2 separate regions of the Homo sapiens genome follow, and region 2 is linked to region 1. The links come from fine-mapping of genetic effects on gene expression. A gene starts in region 1. The other region holds a variant in brackets. All regions are shown on one strand. Distances are between the middles of the regions.

Evidence for each region.
Region 2: its variant is fine-mapped to the expression of CHRAC1 in whole blood (TOPMed, PIP 0.97).

Annotation. Positions count from the first base shown.
Region 1 is chr8:140,506,136-140,516,727 of GRCh38, forward strand. It overlaps CHRAC1 (chromatin accessibility complex subunit 1), which reads left to right and starts at 5,187. Exons shown (of 3, transcript NM_017444.6): 1 at 5,187-5,511; 2 at 8,234-8,360; 3 at 8,991-10,592. The coding sequence starts at 5,365. The coding sequence ends at 9,112. RefSeq lists silencers at 2,532-2,712, 4,890-5,899 and enhancers at 4,580-4,659, 4,670-4,879, 5,940-6,249.
Region 2 is chr8:140,597,902-140,608,493 of GRCh38, forward strand. All of the region lies in intron 1 of AGO2 (argonaute RISC catalytic component 2), which reads right to left. Among named protein-coding and RNA genes, the nearest start is that of ERICD, 31 kb to the right of the region's middle. RefSeq lists enhancers at 1-92, 1,252-1,321, 1,332-1,421. The variant C/T (reference allele first, on the strand shown) is at 4,022.

The DNA.
Region 1 (10,592 bases):
GCAACCTCTGTCTCCTGGGTTCAAGCAATTCTCCTGCCTCAGCCTCCTCAGTAGCTGGTATTACAGGCGCCCACTACCATGCCCGGCTAATTTTTTAATGTTTTTAGTAGAGACGGGGTTTCACCATGTTGACCAGGCTGGTCTTGAACTCCTGACCTCAGGTGATCCACCCGCCTCGGCCTTCCAAAGTGCTGGGATTAAAGGCGTGAGCCACCGCGTCCGGCCCTTTTTTTTTTTTTTGAGATGGAGTCTCGCTCTGTCACCCAGGCTGGAGTGCAGTGGTGCAATCTCGGCTCAATGCCACCTAAACCTCCCGGGTTCAAGTGATTCTCCTGCTTCAGCCTCCCGAGTAGCTGGGATTACAGGCGTATGCCACCATACCTGGCTTTTTTTGTATTTTTAGTAGAGATGGGATTTCACCATCATGGCCAGTCTGCTCTCGAACCCCTGACCTCAAATTATCCACCTGCCTCGGCCTCTCAAAGTGCCAGAATTACAAGCGTGTGTCACCACGATTGGCCCTAAAGCAAAAAATTTTTTTTGAGATGGAGTATCCCTCTGTTGCCCAGGCTGGAGTGCAATAGCGTGATCTCGGCTCATCTCAACCTCTGCCTCCTGGATTCAAGCGATTCTCCTGCCTCAGCCTCCCAAATAGCTGGGATTACAGGCTTGTGCCACCACGCCCAGCTAATTTTTATATTTTTAGTAGAGACGGGGTTTCACCATATTGGCTAGGCCGATCTCAAATTCCTGCTCTCATGATCTGCCCACCTTGGCCTCCCAACGTGCTGGGATTATAGGTGTGAGCCACCGCGCCCTGCCTAAAGCAAAATTTTTAAAGGAAAGACTGAGGCTACATCTCTGCTATCTGCCAACCAGATACAGGGATTATGCAAATTTCTTCAAGGAACACAAATCAAGTGGAGGGAGTAGCTGGGATTACATGTTGGCCAGGCTGGTCTCAAACTCCTGACCTCAAGTGATCCGCCTGCCTCAGACTCCCAAAGTGTTGGGATTACAGGCGTGAGCCACGGCGCATGGTCAAGAATTGTTTTCAAGGACATTGTTAGAGCTGGAGGCGCATGACTGAGAAGGAGGCACGTCACTGAGAAGGGCGAGGTGCTATGGAGCAAAAGGGAGGAGACGCTACCTCGAGATCAGGAAGCTGGGACTGCCCCTGGCCTGGAGCCCAGGAGCCCACACTCGCCCCCGAAGGACTCCAGGGCTGCCACTGTTGAGCAGAAACTTAGAGTGAAGCCGCTCAAAGCTCCACATGTGCAGGTGGTGATCCCTATAACCCCACTGCAGTCCTCTACCCTGCAGCCAGCAGGCAGATAAAGCTTCTTCCTCCCACCCCACAGCGATCTTTCACAGGGGCCTCCAATTTGCAGAACCTACCCAGAAGCCAGCTGACAGGGCATTCTGGGAAGTGCAGAAAACTGCCTTGCACCACCCTGGGATACCCATGAGAATGGTGCAAGGTACTGTCGTGAAGACAAAGTGAGCCCCTAAAAAACAGAGCTAACGACAGGATGAGACTAACTCACTGAGCTTTTTCCAGAGCCAGGAAGTTCTCAAGGACAACAGTCTTGAATTCTGCCGTCTTAGGTTTAAAGCTTCTTTTTTTTACATTTTTTTTCTCTTTGTAGAGATGTGGGTCTTGTTATATTGCCCAGGCTGGTCTCAAACTCCTGGCTTCACGTATTTCTCCTGCCTCAGCCTCCAAGTGATGGGATTACAGCTGTGAACCACACTGGATTTTTTTTTTTTTTTTTTTTAATGGTGAGCACTTCTTTTCCAGTATGAAGATTTCCTGCTTGGCTTCTCTCTCTACTTCTCAAATGATTAATGACTGCAAACATCACCTGCCAATTCTACAAGCTGAGCTTCTCATCCCTATTCTCTCTCCTTTCCCTCCCTCCCTTCCTTCTTTCCTTCCTTCCTCTTCTGTGCTCTTCCCTAATGTTAACCCATCCTGTTCTCACACATACTCAAAAGAGAAAGACAAGCCATACAAAAATAATAGCCAGCTAGGGAAACAAAACATCTAACAGCTTCAAAATATGTCATCACTATGGCTTGTTTCCTGTGTGGACCAAAGGACCCTCTTGTGTAGCTGCTCTTGTGTAGCAGTTCCCTGCCCCTCTTTTGTGAATGTCAACGGCTTTCCCATTTACAGAGGCAAGGCCGAGAGGGAGAGGGAGTCTGCAGCTCCACCTCCAGCCTGTGCAAACTGCCAGGAGTCGGCTCTGCATAAGGCACAGTGCCATTTGGTCATCACTCAAGAACCAGTGTGAGCTTTTAAAGTGGATCTGCTCCCTTCAAAACTTTTTTTTTTTGAGAGTCTTGCTCTGTTGCCCAGGCTGGAGTGCAGTGGTGTGATCTGTGCTCACTGCAACCTCCACCTTCTGAGTTCAAGTGATTCTCCTGCCTCAGCCGCCAATGCAGCTGAGATTACAGGTGCTTACCACCATGCCCAGCCAATTTTTCTATTTTTAGTAGAGAGGGGGTTTTGCCATGTTAGCCAGGCTGGTCTGGATTTGTTTGTTTTTGAGATGGAGTTTCTCTCTTGTTGCCCAGGCTGGAGTGCAAGTGGCGTGATCTTGGCTCACTGCAACCTCCGCCTCCCGGGTTCAAGCGATTCTCCTGCCTCAGCCTCCTAAGTAGCTGGGATTACAGGCGCGTGCCACCATGCCCGGCTAATTTTTTGTATTTTTAGTAGAGACGGGGTTTCGCCATGTTGGTCAGGCTGGTCTCGAACTCCTGACCTCAGGAGATCTGCCCCCCCTCGGCCTCCCAAAGTGCTGGGATTACAGGTGTGAGCCACCGCGCCCGGCCAAAAATAAAATTTTTGTAGAGATGCTGCCCTGTTATGCTGCCCGGGCTAATCTCAAACTCCTGGGCTCAAGCGATCTGCCTGCTTCAGCCTCCCAAAGTGCTGGGATTACAGGCATGCACCACCTCGAGTTCAAAATTCTTCATTATTTTCCATTACTCTTGGAATGAAAGTCAAACTTTTTACCCAGGGCCAGAGCCGGTCCCACCTACCTTGGTAACCACACCTCCCGTGCTCTCTGCCTCCCTCACTAAGCTCCAGACACACTGGCTTTTCAGTTCCTCAAACTGCCCAGGCATTTTCCTCGTCAGGTGTTCTCCCTAGAGCCTGACTTGTCCCGAAAGCTCATCTTGTCTCAGTCTTTCTGTATGAGTGGCTCCTTTTCTTTCTTCAGATCTGGGCACAAATGTCACTTCCCAGAGGGGCTGCCCTATCACTCGCACATGGTTTTGTTTCCTTCGTAGCTTTCAGCATTGGAGGTGTATTTTTTTTTTTTTTTTTTTTTTGAGATGGAGTCTCCCTCTGTCGCCCAGGCTGCTGGAGTGCAGTGGCGCGATCCCGGATCACTGTAACCTCTGCCTCCTGGGTTCCAGCGATTCTCCTGCCTCAGCCTCCCGAGTAGCTGGCATTACAGGTGCCCACCACCACGCCCAGCTAATTTTAATAATTTCAGTAGAGATGGGGTTTGACTATATTGGTTGGGCTGGTCTCGAACTCTTGACCTCAGGTGATCCACCCACCTTGGCCTCCCAAAGTGCTGGGATTACAGGCGTGAGCCAAAGCGCCCGGCTGGAGGTATTCTTACTTATTTTTCAGTCTCCCTCAGACCTGAAGGTCAGCTCTAAGAGGGCAGGGACCATGGCAGCCCTGCTCACTGGCTGTACCCTTGTGCCTAGCAATGCCTGACATGTATTTCTGTGCTCAATTATTTGCGCCAGGACCTCACGTCACAGTGGTGAAGAAGACACTACACTTAACACGCTCCAATTCAAACCTCTGCCAAAATGTGCTCCCTGTCTCAGTAAAGGGCTCTTTACCAAGGCCTTTCTGATATCTCAGTAAGCTGTGCTGATACTCCACAGCAGCTCCCTCTTGAAATCAGACCCCAAACCCTACCACTTCCCATGATCCTGGCAGAAGTTAAGTTGGTGGCCAGGCGCGGTGGCTTACGCCTGTAATCGCAGCACTCTGGTAGGCCGAGGCGGGCGGATCACGAGGTCAGGAGATCGAGACCATCCTGGCCAACATGGTGAAAACCCGTCTCTACTAAAAATACAAAAAATTAGCTGGGTGGCGCGTGCCTATAATCCCAGCTACTCAGGAGGCTGAGGCAGGAGAATTGCTTGAATCGGGGTGTTGGAGGTTGCAGTGAGCCGAGATCGCACTGCACTCCAGCCTGGCGACAGAGCGAGACTCTGTGTCAAAAAAAAAAAAAAAAAAAAAAGTTAAGTTGGACCCCTTACTCTTCCAAGGGCCTCCCCACTCATTCAGAGCGAATTCTGCGGTCTCCGCGGCCTTCCCTGGTCTGGCCCCTGACCATCTCCTGCCTCTCTCCTCCCAGCTGCTGTCCCCTTGGTACTGCCGGCCTCCTGAGGGCCACGTTCCTGGGTTCTCGTAATCATCTTCTACCTGGTCTCTGTGATTCCGGCCTTACGCGCACCCACGCCCTCCCAGCCGGCAGCTGCAGGGATCCTTTTAAAACTGCCCGGGACTCCACTGCTCAAACCCTACCACCACTTCCCATTTTCCTTAGAAAAAAAAATCCAACAGGACCTAGCCCCGGGCTGCCTGTCAGACCTCGGCGAGCACGCCAGGCTCTGCACACCGTCTCTCGGAGCAGTCCCGAAGAGGCCGTTCCCACCAGACTCCGGGACCTCCTCAGGGCAGCTCTTCGTCCTCCACCCCGCAGGAAGGCTCTTCTCCCAATCACCCCGCGGCGCAGCAAGCCTGGCCCCGCCGCATCGCCCGCGCTGGACTCTGCTCTTCCACCGGTCGCCTGGCTACCGGCGCAGGACGCATCCGCTGTCCGCTTGGTCGTCCCCCCTGGACTTTGTGCTTCAAGAAAGCGTCACTTTTTGCCGACGGCGGCACGCCCGGTCCTAGTACAGCGCAGGCGCTTAACACACAGCACCCAGCCACGAGGCCCGGAGTCAGAGGGCTTTGCTTGCCCATTCACAGAGCCCTCACCCGCGGATCAAAGTCGTATTCCGCGACCGCAGCCCGGAGACTCCCGGGAGCGGCGCGGTGCGCCCCGCCCCCGCCAGGCTCTCGGCTGCCGGTTCCGCGCCGGGCCTCGCACTCGGGGGCGGTGTCCGAGCGTCGGCGCATGCGCAGATCGGGGGCGCGAGGCCTCACGGAGCTCGTAGTTTCCCGGACGGGCCGCTCCCGGCCTCGCGGCCTCGCCTCCCCACACTACAACTCCCACGGGGCAGCGGGCGCGGCTCCCCGTACCCACCAGCTGGCCGGGCAGGGCAGCCACTTCGCGGTCGGGCCCGCCGGCTGCGGGCACCCGCGCGACGGGCGGGAAGATGGCGGACGTGGTCGTGGGTAAAGACAAGGGCGGGGAGCAGCGGCTCATCTCGCTGCCTCTATCCCGCATCCGGGTCATCATGAAGAGCTCCCCCGAGGTGTCCAGCATCAACCAGGAGGCGTTGGTGCTCACGGCCAAGGCCACGGTGAGGGGGCAGGGCGGGGGTGTGGGCCGCCCTTACCCCTCGCGCCCCGCCCCGCCGGGCTCTGGGCACTGCCCAGTCCCCTTAGGCCCGCGCGCCGCCGGCTGCTCTTGCCGGGCTCGCGCGCGCCCCGCTGTCCCCGTCCCACGCCGGCGCGCGCTTCGGTGCCCGCGCGCCCCCACACTTTCTCGCGCGTCTTCGCCCCGCCCACCCCTCGCCGCTCCCTCACGTTCTCCAGTTTCTTCGCCTCGCCTACCGCGCGCCTCTCCCGCCCTTTGTCGCCTTCCTTCGCTCCGCCCGCCCCTTCCTTCCGTGCGCACCTTCGCCCCGCCCACCCCACTGTCCTCCCGCCGTTTCTCTCGCGCTTCCATTCGGCAAACCCGTAAGCTCCCGCGTTCCTCTGCGCGCCTTTCGTCCCTCCCACCTGTGCGCTCACGTCCTCCCTCGCGTGCGGCGCTCAGTTTCCGGCCCTACCCGTGGGCGTCGGCGCCTAGTGGCGCTCTTCTCATTTGGGTTCTTTGGGGGCTCTTTCACCCGCGACTCCCTACTCCCGGCCTGCCTTTTTCTTGTCACTGGACTGCTTCGTGCTTTGAGGGCCCTAACTCCTCCAGTGTCCCGTGGGAGGGGCAGCCGGGCGCTTCACCCGCGACTCGAGGCTCTTTTCCCGCGCGTGCGGTGCCAGCTCCAGCGGTCCGAGGCTTTCGAGCCCTCCCGCCCGCCACAGCTGGGGCCCCTCGTCTAAGAGGCAGCACATTCCCCAACCAGAATTTAAGGAAGTCCGGGGAACTTAAGTTTTACAGCCTGCTTAGCATCCTCCTGGGTGCAAAATAGATAATTTTGTCTTTTTTTAAAAAAATTGCGTCTCGATAGTGTTAGGCCAGATGTTTTCCTGTTCTGACACTGGGCCATGTTTCAGCTACACAGTTAAATGCTTTAGCTTGTCTTGGATTCTATTTTCCAGTCCCTACTTGTAGTTAAGTATATGATGTCCCTGCAGTGTTGGACTAGAACTAAGGGAAGTGGGAAATTACAGGTTTCTTGCCCGCTTTATGTCAGAGCCATGTTTTCCTAGAGCCCAGGGAAATAATTGCATATTCAGCATTTCATCTGGGGACATTTGTATTTTCCTATACAATTTCATTCTATTGGTATTAAGGAATGAGGATTTATGCAGGCACTTCTGACCCGTTATTTTATTTTTTGAGATGGAGTTTCCCAGGCTGGAGTGCGGTGGCACTGTCTTGCTCACTGCAACCTCTGCCTCGCGGGTTCAGATGATTCTCCTGCCTCAGCCTCCTGAGTAGCTGGGATTACAGGTGCCTGCCATCACACTCGGCTAATTTTTGTATTTTTTGGTAGAGACAGGGTTTCACCATGTTGCCCAAGTTGGTCTTGAACTCCTGACCTCAGGTGATCCGTCTGCCTCAGCCTCCCAAAGTGCTGGGATTACAGGCGTGAACCATCACGCCCGTCTTTCTCATCCCTTATTAACTGAACTAGATGCATTAAAGTCAAAACCTTGAGAAAGAGGCTCAGTTCAGCCTCTGTAAAAATGAAGACTTGGCCCTGCTATAAGAACTGGGATGCAGGAGGGAGAAGATCAGTTCCGGTTGTTTCATTAGGTCTGAGGGTTGTATGTCAGTTCCTAGAATAGAAAAGTTTTGGCAAAATGTAAGCTGTGGTCACTATAGTTGTAGGTGAACCACCTTAGAAACAGTGTATGCAAATAGAAGACTAAAAAGGTATTCCTGAGCCAAATAGAATTTTTGAATGGCTTTTTGCTACTTTCTATTTTTTTTTCTTTTTTTTTGAGACGGAGTCTCGCTCTGTCGCCCAGGCTGGAGTGCAGTGGCGCGATCTCGGCTCACTGCAAGCTCCGCCTCCCGGGCTTACGCCATTCTCCTGCCTCAGCCTCCCGAGTAGCTGGGACTACAGCCGCCACCATGCCCGGCTAATTTTGTTTTTTTTTTTTATTTTATTTTTAGTAGAGACGGGGTTTCACCGTGTTAGCCAGGATGGTCTCGATCTCCTGACCATCCTTGGTCCGCCGTCCTTGGCCTCCCAAAGTGCTGGGATTACAGGCCTGAGCCACAGCTCCCGGCCGCTTCTTTCTTTTACTCTAGAGGTTGGTCATTAAACAGTTACGATTCATCTTTTTCGTAAGTTAGACATCTAAAATAAGCCTCTGGAAAATGCCTGCTTCTCCGCCAATTTTGATACTGGCTTTGCTTTCTTTCTGACCTCATGTTTTTCTTTTCCCCAGTGATTTCTTTTTTTTTTTTTTTTTTTTTTTTTGAGACGGAGTCTTGCTTGATCACCCAGGCCAGAGTGCTGCAATCTCCAACCTCCACCTCCCAGGTTCAGGCGATTCGCCTGCCTCAGCCTCCCGCTGGCTGGGATTACAGGCACCCGCCACCATGCCCAGCTAATTTTTGTATTTTTAATAGAGATGGGGTTTCACTATGTTGGCCAGTCTGGTCTCAAACTCCTGACCTCAAGTGAGCCGCCTGCCTCAGCCTCCCAAAGTGTTAGTATTACCAGCGTGAGCCACCACGCCTGGCCTCCCCAGTGATTTCTTGTAATTTAATTTGAGAAACCAAGAGAATCTGAAGTCTTAATATACTTTTAAGCCTAATTAAGGAATCAACAATGTAATTTTAAAAATTAATTTCTGTGGTACATTTTCAAAGCACACCTTTCATTTGCATTTTTCATTTTGTTCTAGGAGCTCTTTGTTCAATGCCTAGCCACCTATTCCTACAGACACGGCAGTGGAAAGGAAAAGAAAGTACTGACTTACAGTGATTTAGCAAACACTGCACAGCAATCAGAAACTTTTCAGTTTCTTGCAGGTACTTAGTCTTTGAAACATTCTGGTTAAAAAATGATTAGTAATCAATAGCTCTTTCCCCACCCCTTGCCTCCCTTCTGCTCTCACGGAAAATTAGACTTTTTGCTACTTTTTCCAAGCCGCAAAGTACTATGAGTTGTCACAGGAAGATACTTTTAGTCTTCTCTGTTTGAATGTGTTTGTCATGTGGTCCACCTAGAACAATAGTGAAGCCAACAACATTCACAAGATGTTGGTTGGCCGCGTATGCTGGGCAGTCCTTTACTCTCTACAGGGACCCTGCCTGCCACTGAAGGGAAAACTCAGGGTGGGTCTACATGGCCGTAGTTAGAGCTTAAGTCTACCCTGGGGCTAGCCTAGGCTATCTCAGGTAGTCGGGCAGGGTTGCTCATAAAAGCAGCTCATAGAGACACCATGGTTTGTACTCATTGGACTGGAAAGAGGCCTATAGCGTTCGTTAGGAGACAATGCTAGTTTCTTTGATATTTTACCCAGAAATGCAGCCTGAATTTCATCTTGTTTTGGAACCTCTTATAGAGGTCAAAGCAGGAACTAGTACATTTTGAAATGTGCATTGCTGTGTTCATAGTCTACCATAACCAATTGCTGATGTACGCTTTATGTTTTTAAGATATATTACCAAAGAAGATTTTAGCTAGTAAATACCTGAAAATGCTTAAAGAGGAAAAGAGGGAAGAAGATGAGGAGAATGACAATGATAATGAAAGTGACCATGATGAAGCTGACTCCTAAACCAAAAGTGCTTTAAAAACCAGCCTGGCGAGGACAGCCCTGGACCCACTCCACTGTCTCTAAGTAAACACAGCACTGCCCGCTTTTAGCGTCTTCACTTCTTCACAGAGTTCCAGTGTGTGGTATTCTTTCGAGGTATTCTTTCCAGGCCGAGATTGAGCACCTCATGTACCTACGCCACAGACAGCCAGAGGGAAAGCGACCCAGACAGCAGCCCCTCCTCGACAGGCCCACCCTGCAGCTCAGGCACCAAGAAAACAGCCGATACTGGCAGCCATTGCAGCTCCAAACTGCAGAGGCAAGGCCAATTTTAACTTTTCAATTTACAGTCGATTTTGAAGAGCTTCTACATATCGGTTATGTAAATTCATATATGTATATTTTGGAATCAGTTCTTATAAACAGCTCGATTCAGTTTTAGCTAAATTTATAGTTTAGGTAGTATGTTACATTTGAATTTTTGTCTTAAGAAAAGTTGACTGTTCAGATATTTTTCTACTGTAAAGAAATATACTTTTCTATTAAAGATCTGTACATATTTTTACAGTAAAATGCTTTATGGAACTAGTTTTAGAGCCCTCTATGGCTTTAAGGCCTTGCTTACTGCCTGCAAATTTTGAGAAATTTAAAAATAAGCATTCTAACACTTTTATTCCCACAGAAAAATTCCAAGTCAAATTATCAAATCAAATACAAAAATAAGTCTTACCTCTTGTATAAGCATGTTGTACTAAAAAAAAATTTTGAAACATTTTGTATATTGGAGATCTCTCTCATCTTACTGTTCTTTGCTTTAAATTCCTGGCACTTCTTTTTACTGTCTATAAGAGAAAACCTATCATAAGCCCAATTTTTTTTTTCCACTTAGGGTAAATGTTTGGCTCCTCTCATTTCATTATCTTTTTTTTTTTTTTTTTAAAGACAGATTCTCACTCAGTTGCCCAGGCTGGATTGCGGTGGCGCTGTCTCAGCTCACTGCAACCTCCGCCTCCCAGGTTCAAGTGATTCTCCTGCCTCATCCTCCTGAGTAGCTGGGATTACAGGCGTGTGCCACCATGCCCAACCTATTTTTGTATTTTTTAGTAGAGACGGGGTTCACCATGTTGGCCAGGCTTGTCTCAAACTCCTAACCTCAACTGATCCACCTGCCTCAGCCTCCCAAAGTGCCGCCGGGATTACAGGCGTGAGCCACCATGCCTGGCCTTCATTATCTCTTTTTTAAAAATGAAAAAGTTTATAATTTACATTCAGTAAAATCACCCTTTTTAGTGTCTAGTCTGTGAATTTTGACAAATGCATGGTTTTGTAACCAATCGATAGGACAGTTCTGCCACCCAGGACATTCCCCTCTGTTCCTCTGTTCCTCTCTTCTCCTGCCCCCTAGCAACCACTGGTGTTTTCTGTCCCTCTTGTTCATTGACATTTATTTTAAAATAAAATATTTTAAAATCTACTTTTTGGTGTACAGTTCTGAGTTTTG
Region 2 (10,592 bases), 92 kb after region 1:
CCACCTGGGAGGACCAAGAGATGACCCTGCCCACCAGGGGCCTCACAGTAGATGCCAGTGCCAGTGCCAGCAGATGCTTGGCGGGGCCCCATGCTGGGCTGTAGGGCGCACAGCTCTCCTTTCTAGGTGCCAGGTCGAACACTGAGCTTACTATTGTACAAGATCTAACCCAGGAGGGTGAGAAAGGAGGAGATGAGGCAGGACAGCAAGAGGGACTGGGGTCCCACACAGCAGCTCAGCCACTGCCGACCTCGGGGTCAGGAAACAGACACCCACAAGAGCGTCCACGACCCGTATGGGAAGATGTCTGAACCCCGAGACGGCGTGTTCTGTGCTGGAGAACAACTTCCAGGGCTTTATCCAGGTGTTCTAAAGCCACAGCACCAAAAAGAATTCTCTTCGGCAAAGGCAGCAGGACTCAACAGGAAGCAGACGTTTGCGTTCCGTTACTTGAGGAAAACCAAATGCTGCTGACATTTCTACCCAGAGAGAGTTTGCATCTCTCCTGCTTCGCAGCCATCTTTCCTACGGTTTTACCAGGAGAATGCCTAGCTCTTCTCCAACCTGTGCCAGGCCTGACACTCAGCTCCTCTGGGAGTGCCTCCATTTCCCTGTGCGTACAAGCCCACGGTGCCGTAGGATCACCGGTCCACTCTGCGCGGCAGCACCGCACCCCGGAGCCGCAGCTCTTCCTCCCGCTTGCCCGACAGCCCTGGTGCCAAGCCCTGTCTGAGCCCCACCAGGAGGAAGCGCGTGCTGGCTGCTCTCCATCTGCTCTGGGACTCTGGCCTGCTGCTTCCTCTGCCTGCCACTCCCCAACCCCGTTTCCTCCTCTGAAAACTGGAGCTACACCTGCCCCAACAGGGCAGAATTACCTTAAATGGCACAAGACAATTGTACAGCAGACCCACCTCTTCTCCAAAGTTTTCAGGGCCCAAACCCAGACACCTCCTTGCAGGACTCATGGCTACCGTGGGCTCGCACCACCAGCCTCCCCATGCGTTTTCCTGCCTCTGCTTTTGCTCAATCTGCTCAATGACAGAAACGCGACAACAGAGGCCACTTTCTCCAAACCCAGCTCTCCCTCGAGGCTCCCATCCTGCTGCTCACGCTGAGGCCACTCTACCCTGCCCTCCGCAGCTCACAGGCAGACCTGGAGCCCAGTGACTACAGGGTTGGCCTCCTCATCTTGCCACCACTCACAATGCCCAGCAGTGTTAAAATCCGGCAGGATGCACCCGCTTGGGAAGCAGTCCCCAAAGCAGAATCGTCACCACATCTGAATAGTTTCTGCCATCCCACTGACAGGCCAGCATCTAAAAGAGATGTGCGCTGAGCGTCCGTTATGTGGTGGCGTCGCTGTGGTTTCTTAACCAGAACGCAAAATCCTGTGACCAGGATTATCACCGGCTCGTTTCATACATGAGACGGGGGAAGCCAAAGTAACCACTCAGGCCACAGCAGAAAAACGCGTGCTGGAATCTGAAACAAAGTCTGTTGGATTCCAAGGGTTCAACGTCTTTTGTGATGATGAAGACGAAGCCTGCCCAAGAGCAGTCAGAGCTGAAAGAAGAAAAGCAGGAGGGCCTGTGAATGCCCCCAACCCCCTAAAACCTGCAGCTCCAGGTCCGACACTCCCAGGTTTGCGTTTTGAATTTACACTACCTATGGGGTCCAGGCCATCACCTAAGTGAGAAATTTCACACGCTCACCCGGGGTGCTCAAAGCCATCTCTCTAAATGAGGTGCCTGATGTGCAGACAACCCTTATATGATCTACATCTCTTCACCTGTCTGGAAATCAAGACCCTCTCACGATTTTTTTGTTTGTTTTTCCCCGAGACAAGGTTCTCAGTCTGTCCCCAGGCTAGAGTACAGGGGCGCAATCTCGGCTCACTGCAACCTCTGCCTTCCGGGTTCAAGCGATCCTCCTGCCTCGGCCTCCAGAATAGCTGGGATTACAGGCACCCACCATCACACCTGGCTGATTTTTGTATTTTTCGCAGAGATGGGGTTTCACCGTGTTGGCCAAGCTGGTCTTGAAATCCTGACCTCAAGTGATCTGGATCTCTCAGCCTCCCAAAGTGCTGGGATTACAGGCATGAGCCACTGTGCCCTGCCCTCTCATGATTTAAAAGGCAAATGGACACAAAGACACATGCAGACGACGTGACAGCCTCTGTGAAGATGAGACGCCTTGGCAGGCACACTGTTAGAGCCAGAAAGAATCCAGCCAGCTTGCTGAACCACAATGCATTCCTATGTGTGAGCAACGATTAGAAAAGTTATTTTTTACAAAGATGTCATTTACAAACAACAAAAGCTGTAAGGCACAAAAGTGGGACATGTATGAAGTCTACTCGAAAGATGTGTCCTTTAATTACTCCTGCACTTGGCGAGGCCTCTGCTTCCCAGCCTTGTGTTAACTGTGGCCTCTGTTCAGACTCCTGCAGCACACGGAGGAGTCAGCGTCATGGGGTCTACAGATCCAAAACACAGGCCGGGCGCGGTGGCTCACGCCTGTAATCCCAGCATTTTGGGAAGCCGAGGCGGGCAGATCACCTGAGGTCGGGAGTTCGAGACCAGCCTGACCAACATGGAGAAACACCATCTCTACTACAAATACAAAATTAGCCGGGCGTGGTGGCGCATGCCTGTAATCCCAGCTACTTGGGAGGCTGAGGCAGGAGAATTGCTTGAACCTGGGAGGCAGTGGTTGCAGTGAGCCGAGATTGCACCACTGCACTCCAGTCTGGGCAACAAGAGCGAAACTCCGTGTCAAAAAAAAAAAAAAATCCAAAACACGCTCTCTGTTTTCCCATTCGGAGGAGAATTACATCCTTCTGGAAAGAGGCCTCCATGTCTGCTGGCGCCACGTCCGTCCTATGTCCCCTCTCTCTGCTCTGCCTCCTTCAAACCCCAGTGAGTGGGTCACCAAGACCCCGTAGGATTGACGGGGAGGTGGAGGTTGCAGTGAGCCGAGATCACACCACTGCACACCAGCCTGGGCAACAGAGTGAGGCTCCGTCTCAAAAAAAAAAAACCCGAATTCGAATTGTGTCTAAATCTGTCCACTTCACCTCCACCATTTGTGTGCAGGCCACAGCCATCATCTTCTCCCAGCTGGATCACTTCACAGTGCCTACCAGGGCCCCCTGTGTCCACACAGCAGCCAGAGATACCAGGAAGGGCGACTGGGTCATCCCTCCACTCTCAAGTTCCCCAGTGGCATCTCATCTGCACCTGGAGACAGCCAGGTTCCCACGGGTTCCGAGGCTGTCCGGCCACAAGGCACCCAATGCGCTCCTGCCCCAGGGCCTTTGCACTTCCTGTCTACTCTTTCCTCAAATCCCTGCGGTTTGCTCACCCACTCACCTCCTTCAGGTCTTTGTTCAATGTCACCTCCTTAGAGACTGCTGACTGGCTTGTTAAAAACGGTGCATGCCCCCAGCAGCCCCAGCACCCCCCCGCCGCTGTGCTCGCCTCAACAGCGCTTGCCACCTGGCACACTACATCTCCAGTACTCCCTGCACTAGGCACACCCCAAAGAGAAATGTCTCTGTTTCTGCCCCCCTGGTCTACCCCAGGGCTTAGAATCATGCCTGGCAAGTGCTAGGCTGATGGATGTGAACCATATGGTGAATGGTCTCCAGGTAGGTTCTGATTTTCCCTTTGCTCCGCAACCATGGCAGTCTGGGCTGTCTGCCCCAGCCTGGTTGCTTCTTTTTCTGGAGCAACAGAGCATGTGTCTGCCAGCTAGAGTCATCTCTTGGTGTTTGCCTAGAACCTGAACACATCCTCCTATCTACCTTGTATCAGCTCTAGATTACTTATAATACCTAAAACAAACACTATGTAAATAGTTATTATACTGTACTTTAAAATTTTAGAATATTTTTTATTGCTTTTCTCCCCCCAAATATTTTCTACCCCTAGGTTAAGGCACCCTGCTTTGGTGGGTTTACGTGATAGGCAGGTCAGCGGCGGGCCAGCACACAGAAACCTCACAGCCTCCTCCTCCA[C/T]GGTCTTTCCCCTTTGGGTTGAAGATGCCCTGCAGCCTGAATCCCTGAATAGCTGCATGGAGCAGAGCAGCTAAGCCCACACAGCCCTGGAAATTTACATGAAGGAAAAATAAGCTTCTACAGGGCTTGGATTCCTCCAAGAACCACTGCGTTTGCATGTATTTGTTTTAAGAACTTCATCCATCGCAATGAGCACATCCCTCTCTCCCTAGTCACTATGTTTTCCACATGAACACATGAGGGTCCTTATTTTTTAACAGAGTAGAATAGATGTTAAAAATAAATATCATGAAGGGAAAATTTAGCCTCTATTGATGTTATCTCTTCTGTGACATTTTCCTACTGCATATCAAAATATCCCCAGCCTACATAGCTATAAGGTCATGTTGGCAACACTGTCATTATAAAGGGAAAAAACTGTCCTCTCCCCAGTGATATATTTAGAAATCCAGCATTTCGACTCAGCATTTCCTTAGGTATAAGAATACTCCCACATTTATCTTAAATTACAATCACTGTACATTGTGAAAAGAAGTACTGTTCCAATGTTAATAAAACAGTAAACTGTACATCACGGTGGCGTTAGAAAACCGTCAGAACAGACTCCGTGAAATAAGCTTTAGCTTTAAGTAAAATCTCCCTGTAAGCTTCAGCAGGCTTCTGCAGCCCATCCCTGTGGCTCAGGCTAATTCAATTGCATGGAGATTCAACTTTAATTCCCCGCACTTGGAATGAATACAGCTCCCTGAGGGATACTTAAAAGCAAATTTAACAAATGACAGAAATCAGAAAATTTCTCCAATTTGTCCAACCAGCTATTTGAAATGTCAATTCTAAACACTGGCATCCTGGAGAGGTACCATTTTTTTCCTAGTCAGAATAATTAATTAGGAGTAAATTGCTGAAAATCAAGCAGACAAAATATCCAGGAGTGTTTGCTTCTTTGATCAATTTCCTTCCTGAAGAGAGACGAGCTCACAGTTTAAAACAAATCGAAATGGTATTCTACTTCCTCAGAGGACTGAAGAAAAGTTAACGACGATGCCTGCACGCATTTTGGATCACAGGCCGTGCCACGTGCAGTGTTCTGGCCGCATCTTTTATATGACATAATTATGGATTTCTTTCTATTATTTGCTATCCGAAAGGCAGGCCTGCTGCTGGCCCCAACTTCAGAGACCAGCCCAGAATTGGTGGGAGCCTCGGATGGTGCGGGTTGACTCAGGCCCCCACGGCGGCGTGGCGGAGATTAAAGATGGGGTCTAATCTGGCCCTGTGGACCCGGCTCAGCAGACGATGGAATCCCAGATCTCATCGGGAAGTCTGTCAGCCAAAAACACACACCTCAAAGCGGAGTGCGTGGTGCCTCCACACCGGGCTGTGTTTGCGGAGCTGGGATGATAAGTGTGCAAGGGAGGAGGGATCCAGGGCCAGGTTGTTTTCTTCTTGTTAAAATTCAGATAAATTTACCACCGTAGCCATTTTCCAGTGCACACTGAGGTGGCCTTTCGCACATCCACACTGTTGTGTAACCAACACAACCACCCAATTCCTGGGCACCTTCGTCACCCCCAAAAGAAGCCACGTGCCCGCTAAGCCATCACACCCCGTTTCCTCCAAAGCCCAGGCCTTGGCACACGCACCTGCATTCTGTCTCAATGGCTCTGCCTGTTCTAGACATTTCCAGAGGTGGAGCCACGCACGTGACCCTCTGTGCCTGGCCCCCCTCATGTGGCATGCTGTCCTTGAGGCTCATCCGCGCTGCAGCTGTGTCTGAGCTCCACTGGGGCCGGATTTAACAGACTCCCTCAAGAGGGGCTTGCTCCAGCCCCACGCTGCTGTGGCGGACTGGGCTGGGGGCCTCCTTGTGTCTTCACCCTCCACCCTGCAACTGTGCGGCCTCTTCCACAGACTCCACATCAGCCATGTGCCTTGCCTGGCAAATGGCACAGGCATGACTGTTCCGCATCCCTCAGGGCTTGCAAAGGTGCCAGCTGCTTCTGCTGTGCCCTCTGCTGGGACTCCTGCCTCCCGGGGATGAGCTGCCCCTCCCTCAGGGTGAAGGAGCTGCATGGAGTGGTCCCATCATCCAGGCCCATGAAAGGCCCTAGCCAAGGTGGCCGAGAGGCTAAGTTGGCCTCTGACCAGATGTCCCTCTGGGTCATGCAGCCCCAGCAGCCCCGGAGGCTCAGACACAGTACGAAATGCTGCTGTAGGCCACAAGACCTTGAGGCGCACCAGGGAAACGACGCGATGGAGCAGATATATTCTCAAACTCATCAGAATGAGTGCAGCGTGCTGTGTACTGTCGGAAAGTTAGAAGCACCACGCTGGTCTCTGCTCAGTGGCACCTTTCATCTAGCTGGGAGTTCATGTTCAAGAACTTGAAAATTACATAAGCGAAAATGCTTAGGTATGTTGAAATTAACGGCTAATTATGTGTATACAAATACCGATTCAAACACAGCAACAATAAAAAGGCATTTTTGGCTGGGCGCGGTGGCTCACGCCTGTAATCCCAGCACTTTGGGAGGCAGAGATGGGTGGATCATGAGGTCAGGAGTTCAAGACCAGCCTGGCCAACATGGTGAAACCTCATCTCTACTAAAAATACAAAAATTAGGCCGGGTGCGGTGGCTCATGCCTGTCATTCCAGCACTTTGTGAGGCCGAGATGGGTGTATCATGAGGTCAGGAGATAGAGACCATACTGGCCAACACGGTGAAACCCCGTCTCTACTAAAAATACAAAAAAGTTAGCCGGGCGTGGTGGCGGGTGCCTGTAGTCCCAGCTACATGGGGGGCTGAGGCAGGAGAATGGAGTGAACCTGGGAGGTGGAGCTTGCAGTGAGCCGAGGTCGCGCCACTGCACTCCAGCCTGGGCGACAGAGCGAGACTCCATCTCAAAAAAAAAAAAGGCATTTTCAAGACAACTGGGAAAACCCGTGACTGTATTTGGTGCCATCAAGGAATGGCCATTTATCATGGGTCATGGAACTGTGATTCAGTTTTTTAAAAGACTCCTCATCTTTCAGAGACATACACTTAAGTATCTCTGCATAAACGTGCACTATGTGGGATTTGCTTCAAAATATTCAGGTAAGGAAATAAGACTGGCTATGGCGGATACGTTAGACTTTCTTTCCTTTCATACATATTTGAAAAAAAATACAAGTTTTTTTTCTTCTTTTTGAGGTGGGGTCTTCCTCTCTTACTGAAGCTGGAATGCAGTGTACAATCTCAGCTGCCTGCAACTTCCGCCTCCCGGGCTCAAGCAATCTTCCCACCTCAGCCTCCTGAGTAGCTAGGAGCACAGGTGTGCACCACCATGCCCGGCTAATTTTTTTGTATTTTCGGTAGAGACAGGGTTTCACCATGTTGCCCAGGCTGGACTTGAACTCCTGAGCTTAAGCAATCTGCCTGCGTCAGCTTCCCAACGTGCCGCGATTACAGGTGTGAGCCAATGCACCCGCCCTTAAAAGTATTTTCTAAAGCTTAAAAAAAATATCAGCAAATGAAGGAATGACCAAAGTGAAATGGGATAACCCAGCCTGGGCTGAACACAGACGGGGGTGCAGGGCTCTGGGGTAGGGAGGACGCACGGGGATACCAGGCCAGGTGTGTCTGAGGCTGCGCAAGGCCACCACTGCTGTCTTCTAGGGGAGGGTCTGCAGCTCTCGCAGGGGTGCCCAGCGGTAGGTCAGAAGCCATGCTGGGACCCAGCTGATGAAGACCCCACCCGCTGGTCCAGGGGTAGCTCTAGTTCCCAGCCATTGCTCTTGACTATAAACTTGGACAAGAAAAGGAATGATGACAAGTGGCTGATGAAGCTAAATTAAGGGCACTCTGCAGGAAGGGAGGAGAAAGCTACAAACCTGCTCAGAGGCTTCCGAACTGGCCCAGGGGCCAGGTGAGAATGGGACTGTAACAGCTGCTGTGCAGGAAAATTGCCCGGTGGGATGAAGCTTAGCAAATGGACAAGTCAGTTAGTACCTGCAAAATGAAGCACGGTGTCAAAAACCGCTTTATTTTCCGCACTCTGCTCAATATTCCATGCCTTCGAGGCTCCAAATATACTCAACATGACCAGTGCTATCAACAAATTATGCAGACTAAGTTGCTTTTTCGTAATTATAAATCAATCATGCTCACAGTAAAATATTTGCAACTTAGAAAGGTCTACTATAAGTAAGGTAAGATTTTTTCCATAATTAAATATGCCAAGAAATACCACTGAAGTATATCCTTCCAGGGCATCGATGACATTTTAATTTGTCTGAAGAAACCAAGTAGGTTCTGATGCCTAAGGAGGGGACCCAGGGAGATGCCTCCACCCATTTCCAGCGCAGGAAGAACTTGCAGGCAGGAGCATGGAGGCCCCACCTACTGCGAGAGCAAGCGAGGAGCATGCAGTTCACTTAACACTGTTGGCAGTTCTTGGAAACAGCAAGTTTAAGTGACATGATGTTTAACAAATCCATTTTTTTCCTAATCAACATCATAACAAAACAACATTATTCAAGAACCTGATGTACTTTGTTTTGCTTAAAAACGCAGTTTCCAAGAACCTCTCCACAGCATTAAGGACTCACTAAACATTCTCCAAAAGTTGATGCCTTCAGCACAATGTGAAAAGAACAGCCAAACTAAGCCTATACATTCTGACAAAGTTACACACAAAGTTATCATCTTGGCAAGGCTTGGAAGCGTAGCAAATTAAAAATTCTATAATTGGCTGGGCGCGGTGGCTCATGCCTGTAATCCCAACACTTTGGGAGGCCGAGGTGGGCAGATCACCCGAGGTCAGGAGTTGGAGACCAGCCTGACCAACATGGCAAAACCCCGTCTCTACTAAAAATACAAAAATTAGCCGGTCGTGGTGGCGTGTGCCTGTATTCCTAGCTCCTTGGGAGGCTGAGACAGGAGAATTGCTTGAACCTGGGAGACGGAGGTTGTGGTGAGCCGAGATCACACCACTGTACTCCAGCCTGGGTGACAGAGCAAGACTGCCTCAAAATAATAATAATAATAAATTCTATAATTTAAGGCCAGGCATGGTGGCTCACGCCTGTAATCTCAGCACTTTGGGAGGCCGAGGTGGGTGGATCACCTGAGGTCGGGAGTTGGAGACCAGCCTGACCAACATGGAGAAACCCCGTCTCTACTAAAAATACGAAATTAGCTGGGCGTGGTGGTGCATGCTTGTAACCGCAGCTACTCAGGAGGCTGAGGCAGGAGAATCGCTTGAAGCCAGGAGGCGGAGGTTGCAGTGACCCGAGATCATGTCATTGCACTCCAACCTGGGCAACAAGAGTGAAACTCCATTTAAAAAAAAAAAATTCTATAATTTAAAAATGAGCCAGTTGCAATGGTGTCCACATGAAGTCCCAGCTACTCAGGAGGCTGAGGCAGGAGGACTGCCTGAATCCAAGAATTTGAGGCTGTAGTGTGCTATGACTGTACCTGTGAATAGCTTCTGCACTCCAGCTGGGCAACCTAGTGAGACCCCGTCTCACCCCCACCTCTTAAAGAAAAATTATATATATATATATATATATATATATATATATATATATATATATATATATATATATACACACACACACACGTATGGAAAAAAACAAATGTCACTGACGAATGGATAAAAATGTGTTCTATCAGGACAGTGGAATATTACACACCCATGAAAAGGAATGGGGCACTGGCACCTGCTATGACATGGATGAACCTTTAGAGCATTGTTAGGCGAAAGAAGCCAGACACAAAAGTCCGCATGTATAACCTCAGGAACATGCAACATCCAGAACAGGCCATTCTGTGGAGATGGAGCACAGAGTGGTGGCTGCCAGGGGGTGGGAGGGGGCCATAGGAAGCAGCTGCTCATGGAGCACAGGGCTTCTGTTCCAGGCGATGGAAACGTCTGGACCTAGATGGAGTGATGCGCGCCCAACATCATGATGGACTTAACGCAGTTGAGTTATGTACTTTAAACCGGTCCGTTTTGTTCCGCATATTTTACAAACATATGGAAGATCTAATCAATAATCAATGAATCTGCTCAGCACTGAGCTCCTTTATGCTCCCCCTGGAGGAACTGATACCTTCCCCTGTGGCCTTTGGTGAAGAACACATTGAATGAATGAATTCTCAGCAACAACAGGTTCTTTAGATCTTTAACCGCCACTCCTAAACACAGAGTGGTGATATGGGCTTGTGAGCTCTGTCTGGAGAAACCAAAGCTGTTGTTTTCAGACATTAGCATGAGACAGGCAGAGATAACCTGTCGGAGGTGGATGTTACACTTGGCACTTTTTACGCTGCCATTCTGCCTTCTCTCCCCTCCAGCACGCTCCGGTCTCCTGTCACATCCCCAGGGCAGGCAGCAAATCTGCAGAGCTCTGGCAGCGCAGTGGCCACTTTCCCTGGTCTCCTTCTCTGTGCAAATCACCACAGTCCCAAGGACATCAGCCACGTCACCCTCTACTGTTTTCTCCACAATTGTCCGTGGAGAGCCCAACAGACAGGTCTGCAGCTCCTCTGCTTCGCCGGCCCCATGCCCCCTCCCAGCGCTA